4 separate regions of the Homo sapiens genome follow, and all the other regions are reported to be linked to region 2. Evidence: microRNA targets listed by miRTarBase, many of them from high-throughput screens and not tested one by one. Region 2 holds a microRNA gene; each other region holds the end of a gene's coding sequence.

Region 1 (3,000 bases), not on the chromosome of region 2:
ATAAACCCAATGAAAGTAGTGGAAGGTATAATTTAAAAAATATATATATAGAAGACAATAACTCCCATGAAACTGTAAGATTAACATCTCGTGTTTAAATTTTGTTTTTTCTGTTTTAGGCATAAAGGCATCACAAGTGGTCGGGCTCAGCTACTCTGGTTCCTACAGACTTTCTTCTTTGGGATAGCGTCTCTCACCATCTTGATTGCTTACAAACGGAAGCGCCAAAAACAAACTTGAAGTTGTCTGAAAGCTTGCTCTACACTTTTACATTCATCCTCACCCTTTTTTTTGTGGGGTAGAGGAGGTGCAGTAATTTACTCAGTGATCTTTCTACTTTCTAGAAACTGTCCTTCAAAGCTCTTTAAGACCCCCTCGTTAGTCAGTTTTTTCTCTTATATGCTCTGGTTGAGCTTGAATAGACCAGTTGTTACTTAAGAAAGAAACAGAGAAAGATTTTAGCTTTTCAATCCTATTTGGCAGAGGACTTCAGCTACCTTCTTACAGTCTTTGGCTGTGTTGGTACCCTCGTGTGCTCTGAGCTAAGCCACATACTAAACTGACTTTTTGGTTTGTATACCCTTGCTCCCGCCTTCTGATGAAAACACCTTACCCTCACAACCACCATCTTTCCTCTCCTTTCCAAAGCTCTTTCCACCTTGCTGCACTAAGATAAAGTGACACTTCCACTATATGTCAATTCCACACACATTTATTAGGTACCTGTGAGGTAGGATCCTATCCTCTCAAACTTCCATTTCTCATGCTACAGAGAAAGATAAGGAAGATGAGCAAGTGCCTGGAATGGGGCAGGCTGAGCAGTCACACAGGCATAGAGGCACGCTGAGAACCTGGAGGGGAGACTGCAGAGTGCCTTCCCTGATGCTGCAGCCGGAAGTGATCCTTCCCTCCACCTGGCCCCTGGGACACTGTGCTCTGCAGTGTGCAGGGCCTGATGGCACTGCTAGATTGCTCCTTCAGCTCAGGGCCACAGCTTAAACAGCTTTACCTTTCCCCTCAGCACCTGTCCCACTATCTTGCACACAGGTGCTCTAACCATGTTTATTGAACAAAGGAGGGAAACTGATTTCACTTTCACTTGTTCATTATCATTCCAATTTTTATGTGAAAATGGCACAACCCATTTGGGGTACCCTCACCCCAAAATAAAAGCCCAAGTCTACCTTTGACTGGTACCACCTTTTTTGTGGTTTCGTTGGTGAGAAACCTTTATCTTTTTCATACCTTTCTATTCTCAATCACTTCTCCAAAAGTGTGTCTTTCCAGCTCTGATTTATTCAAAACACAAGCATTTCTGTTTAGAGATTCTAGCCCATGGGTTATCTGGCTAGTTATTACCTCTCCTGTTCACTTAGTTATACTTTATTATTGCTCACAGGCTGGGGAGGCAGAATGACTCTGTCACCACTAGGAGCCATTAGGGCTTCTTCCCTGGAGGACTGCCTGCTTGCTTTCTGGGGACACTAGCCCTCATTTCCCTTCTGTGGTACAGTGGGGCAAATTATTTGTATTAAGCAAACATTTATGGGAAACAACCCGCTCCCGAAAACGGAGCCCCCAAGTAAAGCACAACCCTGAAAGATTATGAACTATGAATTGTCTCTGGTAGAGATAAATTTCTGCAAACATATCTCAGTCTTCCCTCTGTTTCTCTGGTGATTAAGAAGTTCCTTTTTGGTAAGGAAAAGGATTTTTAACCATAGAGTTAGGCATCATGGAAATTCAAACCAGATTTCTTAATACCTGGTCTTCCTCAAAGAGAAATAATAACAGTAATAGTGGTGCTGGGAACAATATGGCAGATTATTGAATGAAATTGATTAACTTGAATAAAATGCTGTGAATTTTCTCTAGCTGAATGCTTTTCTTGTATTTGTCAGTTTTAACATATTGATGCACATTTGATACTTTTTCTCAAATAGACTACTAGGGAACTGTTTATACACTTCAGATATCAGTTTGTTTTTCACTGATAAAGAAATGCAAAACACTGTGGTTGTCGGGTATATACGTACTATATTTTAGAACTGTCCATGTCCCACTTACCTCCTCCACATACAAGGAATCACTAGGGTGGACCTGAGTGTCTCCTTTTCATTGTAGGATTGTCTCCTTTTTGTTTCTGTTTTTATTCAACATTTGATAAAGTCTATGCACTAAGTAAGGAGTGTTCTGGCATTTTTTTAAATGCATGAAGTCCGGTATGCATCACTTAACAATGGGGATGCCTTCTGAGAAATGCACTATTAGGTGAGTGCATTGTTGTGCAGATATCATAGGGTGTACTCACAAACCAAATGGTAGAGCCGACTACACACCTAGTTTATATGATACAGTCTGTTGCCCCTAGGCTACAAACCTGTACAGCATGTAGAGTAGTACTGAATACTGAAGGTAACTGTAACACAGTGGTAAGCATTTGTGTACTAGCTTTTCTTTAGGATGGGATTAAAAATATATATATATATATATATATATATATATATATATATATATTTTGGGAGGCTGAGGCAGGCAGATCACCTGAGGTAAGGAGTTCAAGACCAGCCTGGCCAACATGGTGAAACCCCGTCTCTACTAAAAATACAAAAATTAGCCAGTCATGGTGGCAGGTGTCTGTAATCCTAGCTACTCAGGAGGCTGAGGCAGGAGGCAGGAGAATTGCTTGAACCCAGGAGGCAGAGGTTGTAGTGAGCTGCGATTGTAGCATTTCACTCCAGCCTGGGCAACAGAGTGAGACTCCGTCTCAAGCAAAACAAAAAAAATAGCTAAACATAGAAAAGATACTGTAAAAATGTGTTCCAATCCTATGGAACCAGTGTCATATGTGCTGTCTGTGATTGATCAAAACGTCAATATGCAGCCGGGTGTGGTGGCTCACACCTGTAATCCCAGCACTTTGGGAGGCCGAGGCGGGCAGATCATGAGGTCAGGAGATCGAGACTATCCTGGCTAACATGGTGAAACCCCGTCTCTACT
Region 2 (3,617 bases):
ACCCTAATATATAAAACACAATTAATCAAAAAGTAAAAATGAAAATACCTCTGAAAGAATATTCTCAAATGATATTTTTTAAAAATCACAGTTTAACACTCAACTAAGTGTCTGGATTGAATGTAGACTTCAAAAACTTACTACGTAAACAAGCTATAACTTTTTAACTCTTCACAAATTCCTATTTTCAGTGTTCATAATGAACAAGGTTTAAAAAAGTGGAAAGGCTCCCAAAATACTGAGAACATATATGTATATAAATCAAGGATGGGTTCACTCATTTCAAGCTATGTCAAGAAGTCTATGGGATGAAGCATGTCTGTTGTGATGGATATAGTACAGAACTAACTCCACGGCTGAGTTCTTCAGAGTGAGCCTCTGTAGGCTCATAGTCCTATTTTAAAGGAATAACCTATTGACCCAATTTGCTGGTGTTATAAGCTTGGAGGAATAGCACAATTTCAAGTTCCTTTCACAGGTGGAGTTTCTGATTAGTCTGTGGTTATTTGAAACATGGTCTACACCTACTGCAGAAGCCAGCATTATTAAAAGCATACATTTTCATTGTGCACCATAACTTTTGGATTTGGGGTCGTTTCATACTTTTTCAGAAATACTGTCTTCTAAATTAAACAGAAAAACATCTATGTGAATATAGCGATGCAACAGTTGTGATATGAGACCATGTGATGGATCAACTAGGTCAGAATATTTGTAAAATCCAGAGTGGCAAGGAATAAAAATAGAGAAACTTACTAAAAATCTTCTACAAAATAGTGATGTAAAATGTGACGTATTAACCAATTTCTACTGTGTCATTCTAGCTTGTTTTCATTAACCATAGCAGAACTTCTAAAAGTGAGCTCTAAAATGTGGCAAATTTGATAATAAATTAAGGAAAAAGTCATTAGTCTCCAAAAACAAGAATTGAAAATCATTTGGCACTGAAGCCAGATGGCAAAGACTAAATGCTCTTCAGAAATTATGAACAATTATTCAGTTACATGAGACTGACATAACAGTGTCAAGTAGAAAAACATTTAAGAAAACAGAAACCATTAAATTTGGGGGAGAGTTTAATTTGGAGGAAGAAGTTGATTTTGGGGTTTTTTAGGGCTAAGTTGCTTCAGCTAAAAATATAGAACTGATAATAAACAAGAATAGCTCTCTTCACTGGCAATAATATCTGTATGGAATTTCTATTGCGAGAAATTACTATAATGCCAAAGGCTGGGAAGACTTTGTTACCCAATGTCATCCCTCTAATTTTAGAAGGATTAACCAACCAATTTTTGCTAAAATGTAGGCACACATACCAAAAAATGTGAATCTTGGTGAATATAGGATGTCTGGTAGGCCTCAGGTTATCTTCAGTCTTCACACTCTTGATGTTCCAGGAATGATGCGCGAGCTTAGGTTGGTTCTAGGATAGGCCCAGGGGCCTGGTTTGATCTGGGATCCCTGGGACCATACCTAGAACAAACCCAAACAAAACCAAACTCCTTGGGAGTGCTTTCAGCTCAGGTAGACTTCTGGGCTTTTCACCCATATGGACCTCCACGACTGTACCAGGACCATATACCAACCTTTAAGGGATGGGAGTGACATTTCTGGAGCCTTCTGTACGTTGTCAGCTGATAGTACTGTGCCTGAGTAAGCATTATTTAAGTCATGGTATGAACAGAAGGTAACAGATTGGTGCAATAAAAGTGCAGAAAATACTTTGATTTAGAAATGAAGTTAATTTCCTTAAGAATTTACTTAAGGAAGGGGAAAAGGATATGCTTTGTTTAGGATATTATAAAAGAGTAAACTTATAAAAGACATGCTTTAGTTTTAGAAAAATTCTTCAATAATATTCATTTGTAGGTAGCTAAGCTTTAGGAAATGATATAAAACTGAAAAACATAAAGCCTAAAACAGTAAAATTATCCTTTAAGAAAATCTTAGGATATAAATAGGAGAGGAAATATATATATCCATAGCCATATCTCACAGAATATACTGATTTTAAAGGATAATGCAGTCAAGAGAATATGCAGCTTAAATACTGTACTATTGCAATAATATGTTGCTAAATGAAGTTCAATACATAGAGATAAAACTAATTTCATTGCTGACAAGCTAAAATACATTAAAATATATACCATAAAAAATACTATATGCACTTTAATTTATCACACATTTCATTTTCCTTCTTTTTTTTTTTTTTTTTTTTTTTGAGACAGAGTTTCACTCTTGTTGCCCAGGCTGGAGTGCATTGGCACAATCTCGGCTCACCAAAACCTCCGACTCCCAGGTTCAAGCGATTCTCCTGCCTCAGCCTCCTGAGTAGCTGGGATTACAGGCATGAACCACCATATCCGGCTAATTTTGTATTTTTAGTAGAGACGGGGTTTCTCCATGTTGGTCAGGCGGTTCTTGAACTCCCGACCTCAGGTGATCCGCCCACCTGGGCCTCCCAAACTGCTGGGATTACAGGTGTGAACCACCACGCCCAGCCCATTTTCATTTATTTATTTTTGAGACAAGGTCTCTCGTTCTGTTGCCCAGGCTGGAGTGCAGTGGTGCAATCATGGCTCACTGCAGCTGTGGCCTCCTGGGCTCAAGTGATCCTCCTGCCTCAGCCTACTGAGCAGCTGGGACTACAGGTGTGTGCCACCACATCCAGCTAATTTTTAAGTTTTTCTGTAGAGACCAAGTCTTGCTGTTTCTTGCCTAAGCTGGTCTTGAACTCCTGGCCTCAAGAGATCCTCCTGCCTCAGCCTCTCAAAGTGCTAGGATTGTAGGTGTGAGCCACTACGTCCTAGCTTATCACACATTTTAGAATATCTATAAAATCAGTTCCTCCTTATTCATGCTAAACTTTTACATGTGTGAATCCTTGAATCAATTAATCCTCTTTTTGGTTTACAGCAATTACACTGAATAGAATCACTTTCCTCTCACAACTACACTCAGAAGTTTTCTTCTTTTATCACTGACCTGGCTTTGGTATCTTGACTATCTCTTCTATAATGGCAGTCTCAACTCAAGAAACTGGTTTGGACCACCTATCTTTTTTTTTTTTTTTTGAGATGAAGTCTTACTCTGTCACCCAGGCTGGAGTGCAATGGCGCAATCTCGGCTCACTGTAACCTCCGCCTCCCGGGTTCAAGTGATTCTCCTGCCTCAGCCTACTGAGTAGCTAGAATTATAGGCAGGTACCACCACCACGCCCGGCTAATTTTTGTATTTTTAGTAGAGACGGGGTTTCACCATGTTGGTCAGGCTGGTCTCGAACTCCTGACCTCGTGATCCACCTGCCTCGGCCTCCCAAAGTGCTGGGATTACAGGCGTGAGCCACCGCGCCCAGCCTGGACCACTTATCTTTTATGATTATTATACCACAGATCCCTTCCATTAGCATGGATAACTGAATGCCGACTATGAGGCATGGTCATAAAATAAACAGACTGATTTGACAGTTACTTTGTAATGAAAACATGAGTCAATATATGGTTACTAAAATAATCAGCATGTTGCTAAAAATAAGTTGTTTGATGCTAGGATATCCATTTCTATACAGATTTGACTTTTACTTGTAAATATTATAGTGTGCAAATTTTATTTTTCAT
Region 3 (3,000 bases), not on the chromosome of region 2:
GTCATTGCAGCTTTGGAATACTGTCGAGCCAGAAAATATCTGCCTCCATGTATTAAAACATTAAATAAAGTTGTTCACTTTTTTGTCTTTTGGTTAGCATTAAGTCAGTTTTAGACAGAGGGAGAATTTGAAATAGTAGAATGGTGGTTGGGTTCAGGATCGTATTTATTAGTCAGTTAACCTAGGATTGGTTTTATTTATTTTTTTTCAATTGGTCTAAAGAATGGTGATTTTGGTATTATAGTCTTACCCTACAAAATCCTTTTGCAGACCAAGTTTTACAGGAAAACTCCAGTGATTTTCAATCAAACATTGCATAGGTAAATATTTTCTCAAAAAATATAAATTCCCAATAGCAAATACTGATATGTTGTAATAATGCTTTCTATAGCAGTCAATGGCTCTGACTTAACTCCATGGAGGCTGCCATTTGGGCACAGTGAGTTGCCTTTAGTCCAGCTTGGTTGTCTCACTTCCTGCCCACCATGAATAGGAAAAGCAAGAGACTTCCCCTGTGCTCCCTTTTCTCAAATGCCATTCGAGGGACACATTGTGAATGTTTATGTTAAATTTTTTTTAAAAATGCCTTGTTTAGCTTTAAAAATACGAAGTAATTTTGCAATTTTTGAAAAACACTAGTTTTCCTTTAAACTTAATTTTTCATGTTGATCCTGAAGAATCCGTTAAAATGGTAGCACAAGAGTCTGGCAAGTTGGTACTGCAGAGAAAAGGGGTTAATTGAGGCTTGTTTGGAGTCGGGATTCCCCTTTCCCAAACATGCGTCTCGCCACTTGGACAGCAGCCATTTGTACTCGTATACTTTTTAAACTTTTTCTTGGAATACTATATTTTATTTGACTGGTAGTCTGATATTACTCCTAACTTGTCAAATTGATCTCTTTGCAGGTAACCAAGGAGCAGTGAACAGCAGCTACTACAGTAGTGGAAGCCGTGCATCTATGGGCGTGAACGGAATGGGAGGGTTGTCTAGCATGTCCAGTATGAGTGGTGGATGGGGAATGTAATTGATCGATCCTGATCACTGACTCTTGGTCAACCTTTTTTTTTTTTTTTTTTTTTTCTTTAAGAAAACTTCAGTTTAACAGTTTCTGCAATACAAGCTTGTGATTTATGCTTACTCTAAGTGGAAATCAGGATTGTTATGAAGACTTAAGGCCCAGTATTTTTGAATACAATACTCATCTAGGATGTAACAGTGAAGCTGAGTAAACTATAACTGTTAAACTTAAGTTCCAGCTTTTCTCAAGTTAGTTATAGGATGTACTTAAGCAGTAAGCGTATTTAGGTAAAAGCAGTTGAATTATGTTAAATGTTGCCCTTTGCCACGTTAAATTGAACACTGTTTTGGATGCATGTTGAAAGACATGCTTTTATTTTTTTGTAAAACAATATAGGAGCTGTGTCTACTATTAAAAGTGAAACATTTTGGCATGTTTGTTAATTCTAGTTTCATTTAATAACCTGTAAGGCACGTAAGTTTAAGCTTTTTTTTTTTTTAAGTTAATGGGAAAAATTTGAGACGCAATACCAATACTTAGGATTTTGGTCTTGGTGTTTGTATGAAATTCTGAGGCCTTGATTTAAATCTTTCATTGTATTGTGATTTCCTTTTAGGTATATTGCGCTAAGTGAAACTTGTCAAATAAATCCTCCTTTTAAAAACTGCACTCTGTCTTGTCTGTGCTTCAGTGTCATGTGGACTGAGTCTTGGTGCTCTGTGCCCACCTGGGGCCTAGGGCCACATCTCTGGCTTGGCAGTTGAGGCTGTTGCGTAGATGTCTTCAGTCTTCCCTCCAGTGCAACTGAAGGTAAACTCGTCTTTGGGGCCCTGGTGGAAGGGCTGTATGTCATTTGGCTGCACAGGACCTGATCTGAACTGCCTGTAACTCATTAAGCACTTGCACAAAACAAAGGGGGAGGCGCCAGTGCCCTCACTGCATGCCTGCATGTCTTTGAGGCCTTCATGCTTGGCTGGGAAGGTGCCGGAGGCAAGGGAGGTGTGATGAATATGTGGGTTTCTTCTAGCTCATAAGCTCATAGGTTTGTTTTTTTTTTTGAGGCAGAGTTATATTCTGTTGTCTCAGGCTGGATTGCAGTGGCGTGATCTCAGCTCACCTGCAACCTCCACCTTGTGGGCTTCTGCCTCAGCCTCCCAAGTAGTTGGGGTTACAGGCGCCCACCACCACTCCAGGCTAATTTTTTTTGTATGTTTAGTAGACACGGGGTTTCACGATGTTGGCCAGGCTGGTCTCCAACTCCTGACCTCATGAGATCTGCCCACCTCGGCCTCTGAAAGTGCTGGGATTATAGGCTGGAGCCATTGCCCAGCCTTCACAGATGGTTTTCAAATGGAAGTTTTGAACTTCTGTATTTTTGGGTCATTCCTAAAAATCAATTCCACTTGGAAGCAAAATTCCATGTAAGTCTCCTAAGGTAGAACGATAGGTAGAGATTGAGAGCTAACATGAGAAGTTTAAATGAACTCTTAAATATATCACGTTTTGGTAGTTCGAAGCTCCAACATGATGATAGCAAGTATTCAAGCTGCTTCCAAGTGGTGTACCTGAGCGAGTTAGAAACGCCACACTTGGAGACGAGTTCAGGAGTCCTTTATTAGCCGGCGACCGAGAGACGGCTACCGCATGAAAGTATCTCGGCCTCGAAGAAGGAGCTAGATTTTCTTTTATACTTTGGTTTGGAGAGGGGAGGGGGATTCTAGCTGCAGCCATCTTAGGGAAGAAAAACAGACAAAAAAGTTAAAGACAAATGGTTACAGGAAAACAGTTCCAGGTGCAGGAGCTTCAAATTCATCACAAAGTGACAGGTGAGGGGGCTCTGGGTGTTATCTACCGGACAAACATGGGGGCTTGATGGTACCATCTCTGAGTAAATTGCTGGGAACTGGACATCGCTTGCCTCAGCACCTTATCAGTTAACTGCACTCTTTGATACGTTGAGAGCTTGCACAAGTTAAAGTCC
Region 4 (3,000 bases), not on the chromosome of region 2:
TTTGCCAATGGAAGGAAAGTCCCCAGATGGTTCCAACAGACAGAGAGCAATGGATTGAATTTAGGAACAAGGCAGTAATTTCATACAGCCCTGCAGAGCTGGGAGATTCTGGGACCAGTTTTAGTGGGGGAGGGGAGGTAAAAATACACTTGAGGACACATTAAATAGGGCCCCAAAACTAAGAGCCTAGCGCTTGGGACAGAACGTGTGTAATATGAAGTTCAAATGAACATGTGTGCCGAAGGCTAATGAGAAGCCCCTAGGGTGATTATATGAGCTTTACCTGCAAGAGGTGACAATCGAGTTTGGCACATGCTGAGTCTATTGGGAAATAATAATATCAAGAGATCTATACCACATCCATGTATGTACAGCTCCCGGCGCCGGCGAGGCAGGAGAGTGACTTACTCAGGGAAACTGACTGCCAGGAAGGCCGGATTCGGTCAGCCCAATCGGAGAAAGCCCGGGGCCGAGGCCAGAAGGTCCCTCGGGGAGGACAGAAGGGTGGTCCCGGCCCCAGGCAGAAGGTGGGGCTGCCAGGAGAGGGCGGGTCCCCGTGGCAGGAGTCCCGGGAGGCCTGGCTGGAGCCAGGCCGGGCCGCGGGACAGTCGGGGAGATGGAGGGCGGGGACCCCATGGGCGCTGGGGCGGGGAGGGCTGGGCCCCGGCGGCCACCCCGCTCCCCCGGCGCCCCGCCGCACCCTCCCGCGCTCACCTAGGCACGCAGCTGGACGAGCTCCGGTCCACCTCCCAGGTGGCGTACAGGTTCATCTGCACCGGGGCGGGGGTGCGGCCTGGCCCCGGGCCACCGGGAGGCGCGGAGCCCGAGGCCACCGCCACGGCCATGGAGGTGGAGGTAGACGAGGACGAGGAGGAGGCAGCCGCCGCCGAGGTGGACGAGGACGACGAGGTGGCCTGGGCCAGCTTGGGGGGCGTCGGCTGCTGCGGCGGCTGCTGCTGCTGCTGCTGCGGCGGCGGCTGCTGAGGGGACTGGGCGACCCCGGATCCCCGCTGGCCGCTGCCGCCCCCGGCGCCTCCGGGACCACCGCCCGCCCCTCCGCGTTCCGCCATGGCCCGGCTAGGCGGGGGTTACGGAGGCCGAGGCGACGCCGATCTGGCTCCCAGGCTTCCCCCGCGGCGGCGGCGGCGGGGGCGCGGCAGCCTCCTCAGCCCGCCTGCCCGAGCGCGAGCAGCCAGCGAGCTGCACGCACGCGCGGGGCCTCTGGGCGCGCGGGCCTCGCGCTCGACCGCCGCTGCCTGTTGCGGCTCGCGAGGCCGACACGGGTGGGCGTGTCCGGGAGGGGGCGGGGAGCCCGGCCCGCGCGGCCCCACCCAGCGCGGAGGGGCCGGGCCGGGCGCGCTCGCGCCCTGCGTGCAGCCACGCGCGCCCCTCGCTCCCGCGGAGTAGAAGGGGTGGTCTGTGGCCAGCGCGCGCCCACGGGTCCTGCCCTCAAATCCGCTGCCAGTCTGCCCCCGCTCCTCCCCTCCCCGCCCACGGCCGGCCGCGGCCCCGCCAGCGGAAACCCGGCTTTTCCGGGATTCGGTCCCTGCAGGGAGGGGGCCGCCGCGGGAGCGCGCCTCGGCCCCTCGGGTCTTCGGAGCCAATGCGGAACCCGCCCCCAGCGGTGGGGGTCTGCCCGGGGAAGCCGGCTCTCCGCCTGCCGACCTAGCCCTGCCCTGCGGCCCCGGCAAACAGAGAGGTCGGCGGAGACCCGGGGCCCGCTGCCACCGCGGGTGCCTGTGATCCGGGAAGTTCCCGCCCCGAGGGCAAGCGGGGGCTCAGGGACCTGGAGTCCAGAAGGTTCTTCGCATAAGTGAATTCTCAAGCTACCCCGGGGCCCATCTGGAGCCAACCTTCCTCTTCTTTCCCTACCCCCCAAATGCCTCTTTAGAGTGCCAGTGCTTTGTTGCTTACCAAATTTCTAAAATTCCATTCCTCCTAAGGCCTAGCTCAGCTGCCACGTCCTATCTGGATCATGCCCCCCACAACCCCGAGACCATCTTGAACCCTCCGGCAAGTGAGCGCCTCCACTGGTGCACTTAAACACCAACAGTAGTACAACAGCAGCGCATGACTACCCTCCCCACAGGCTGGCAAATGCCCATGGGAGCCAGTGATCCAGCCTGCTCTAGTCTGTCAGAAAGGCTGCTCAGGACCAGATTACAACCTGGAGAAAGTAAGTCCCCCCATCCCACATACAAATCCCAAACCCCAGCGACTAGTGTTGCTTGAACCCAAGGGTTCATATGGACTCAAGACAATTTAGCTTTTGAGCTATGTTGTCGCACAGGTAAGGACTTGAACTTCTGGTCACAAGGTCAGTTGGGAAGGCCTGCCCTGGCCTACTTCCCAAGCCCACTGTTACTTCCTCTGCCGCGCTAGGGCGCTAATCTGGCTATTTTTACTCCCCAAGGACAAAGTAGTAAGGTCAAACCAGACCTAGAGGTACTTCCCCCAAGCCTTCCTACAAAGCAGGGCAGTGGTGAAACACAGATTTCAGCCTGGGGTTGGCGTCACCACCAGTCAAATGCGCCGTCTAATCCCAGTTTATGTTCGTGGTTACTGGGGCAGCCCAGTGATTGTAGAAAGAGACTATTTTAGTCCTTTTGCAAGAAGGGGCTAAAAGGAGATGAGGGAGGCTCAGGAGTGTTAAATATTCATCTCTTTCCTTGGGAAACAGCTTTATTTACAAAACAGGTCTAAAATAAGAACATGAAATGACAAGTCCTTGGGAACTGCGGGAGAGGTGGTTCTTGTGTGAAGCCCAGGCATCCAGACGTAGGGCCAAAAAAAGGGCTAGTGTGAGGGGACCTAAAACTTGAACTCCTTATATTTCTTGCTGCCCCCACGGCTGTCCTGGGGCTGAGCTTTCCGTTTTTTTTGCTGTATAGGGAGAAAGAGACACAGGTTAAGACAGGTTGAACCACCCCCGGACCCCCAAAACAAGGGTGGGCAGCCTGACATAGACATAGAAGTCTGTGGGAAAGGCGCTGAATCTGA

What was found. Region 2 holds the annotated microRNA hsa-miR-331-3p (GCCCCUGGGCCUAUCCUAGAA, at 1,422-1,442, opposite strand). A microRNA usually pairs through its seed, bases 2 to 8, with sites in the 3' UTR of a target mRNA and lowers its output. Matches are read on the target gene's strand: a 7mer-m8 pairs with bases 2 to 8, a 7mer-A1 pairs with bases 2 to 7 and ends in A, and an 8mer does both.
Region 1: miRTarBase lists TMEM254 as a target of hsa-miR-331-3p. The part of its 3' UTR that is shown has no 7-base or 8-base seed match.
Region 3: the mRNA of HNRNPH1 is a reported target of hsa-miR-331-3p. The part of its 3' UTR that is shown has no 7-base or 8-base seed match.
Region 4: the mRNA of SF3B2 is a reported target of hsa-miR-331-3p. The part of its 3' UTR that is shown has no 7-base or 8-base seed match.

What each region holds. Positions count from the first base shown.
Region 1 is chr10:80,090,678-80,093,677 of GRCh38, forward strand. It overlaps TMEM254 (transmembrane protein 254), which reads left to right. Exons shown (of 4, transcript NM_025125.4): 4 at 120-1,874. The coding sequence ends at 240. Among named protein-coding and RNA genes, the nearest start is that of TMEM254-AS1, 13 kb to the left of the region's middle.
Region 2 is chr12:95,306,305-95,309,921 of GRCh38, reverse strand. MIR331 (microRNA 331) reads right to left here and starts at 1,502; the gene lies at 1,409-1,502.
Region 3 is chr5:179,612,866-179,615,865 of GRCh38, reverse strand. It overlaps HNRNPH1 (heterogeneous nuclear ribonucleoprotein H1), which reads left to right. Exons shown (of 14, transcript NM_001257293.2): 13 at 271-320; 14 at 907-1,688. The coding sequence ends at 320. The region is part of intron 4 of LOC128966623 (a long non-coding RNA gene); the gene reads right to left. Among named protein-coding and RNA genes, the nearest start is that of HNRNPH1, 9.3 kb to the left of the region's middle. RefSeq lists an enhancer at 1,979-2,038.
Region 4 is chr11:66,068,557-66,071,556 of GRCh38, reverse strand. SF3B2 (splicing factor 3b subunit 2) reads right to left here. Exons shown (of 22, transcript NM_006842.3): 22 at 2,249-2,883. The coding sequence ends at 2,812. It overlaps PACS1 (phosphofurin acidic cluster sorting protein 1), which reads right to left and starts at 1,285. Exons shown (of 24, transcript NM_018026.4): 1 at 715-1,285. The coding sequence starts at 1,070. RefSeq lists silencers at 341-545, 606-755, 766-895, 1,046-1,095, 1,106-1,725.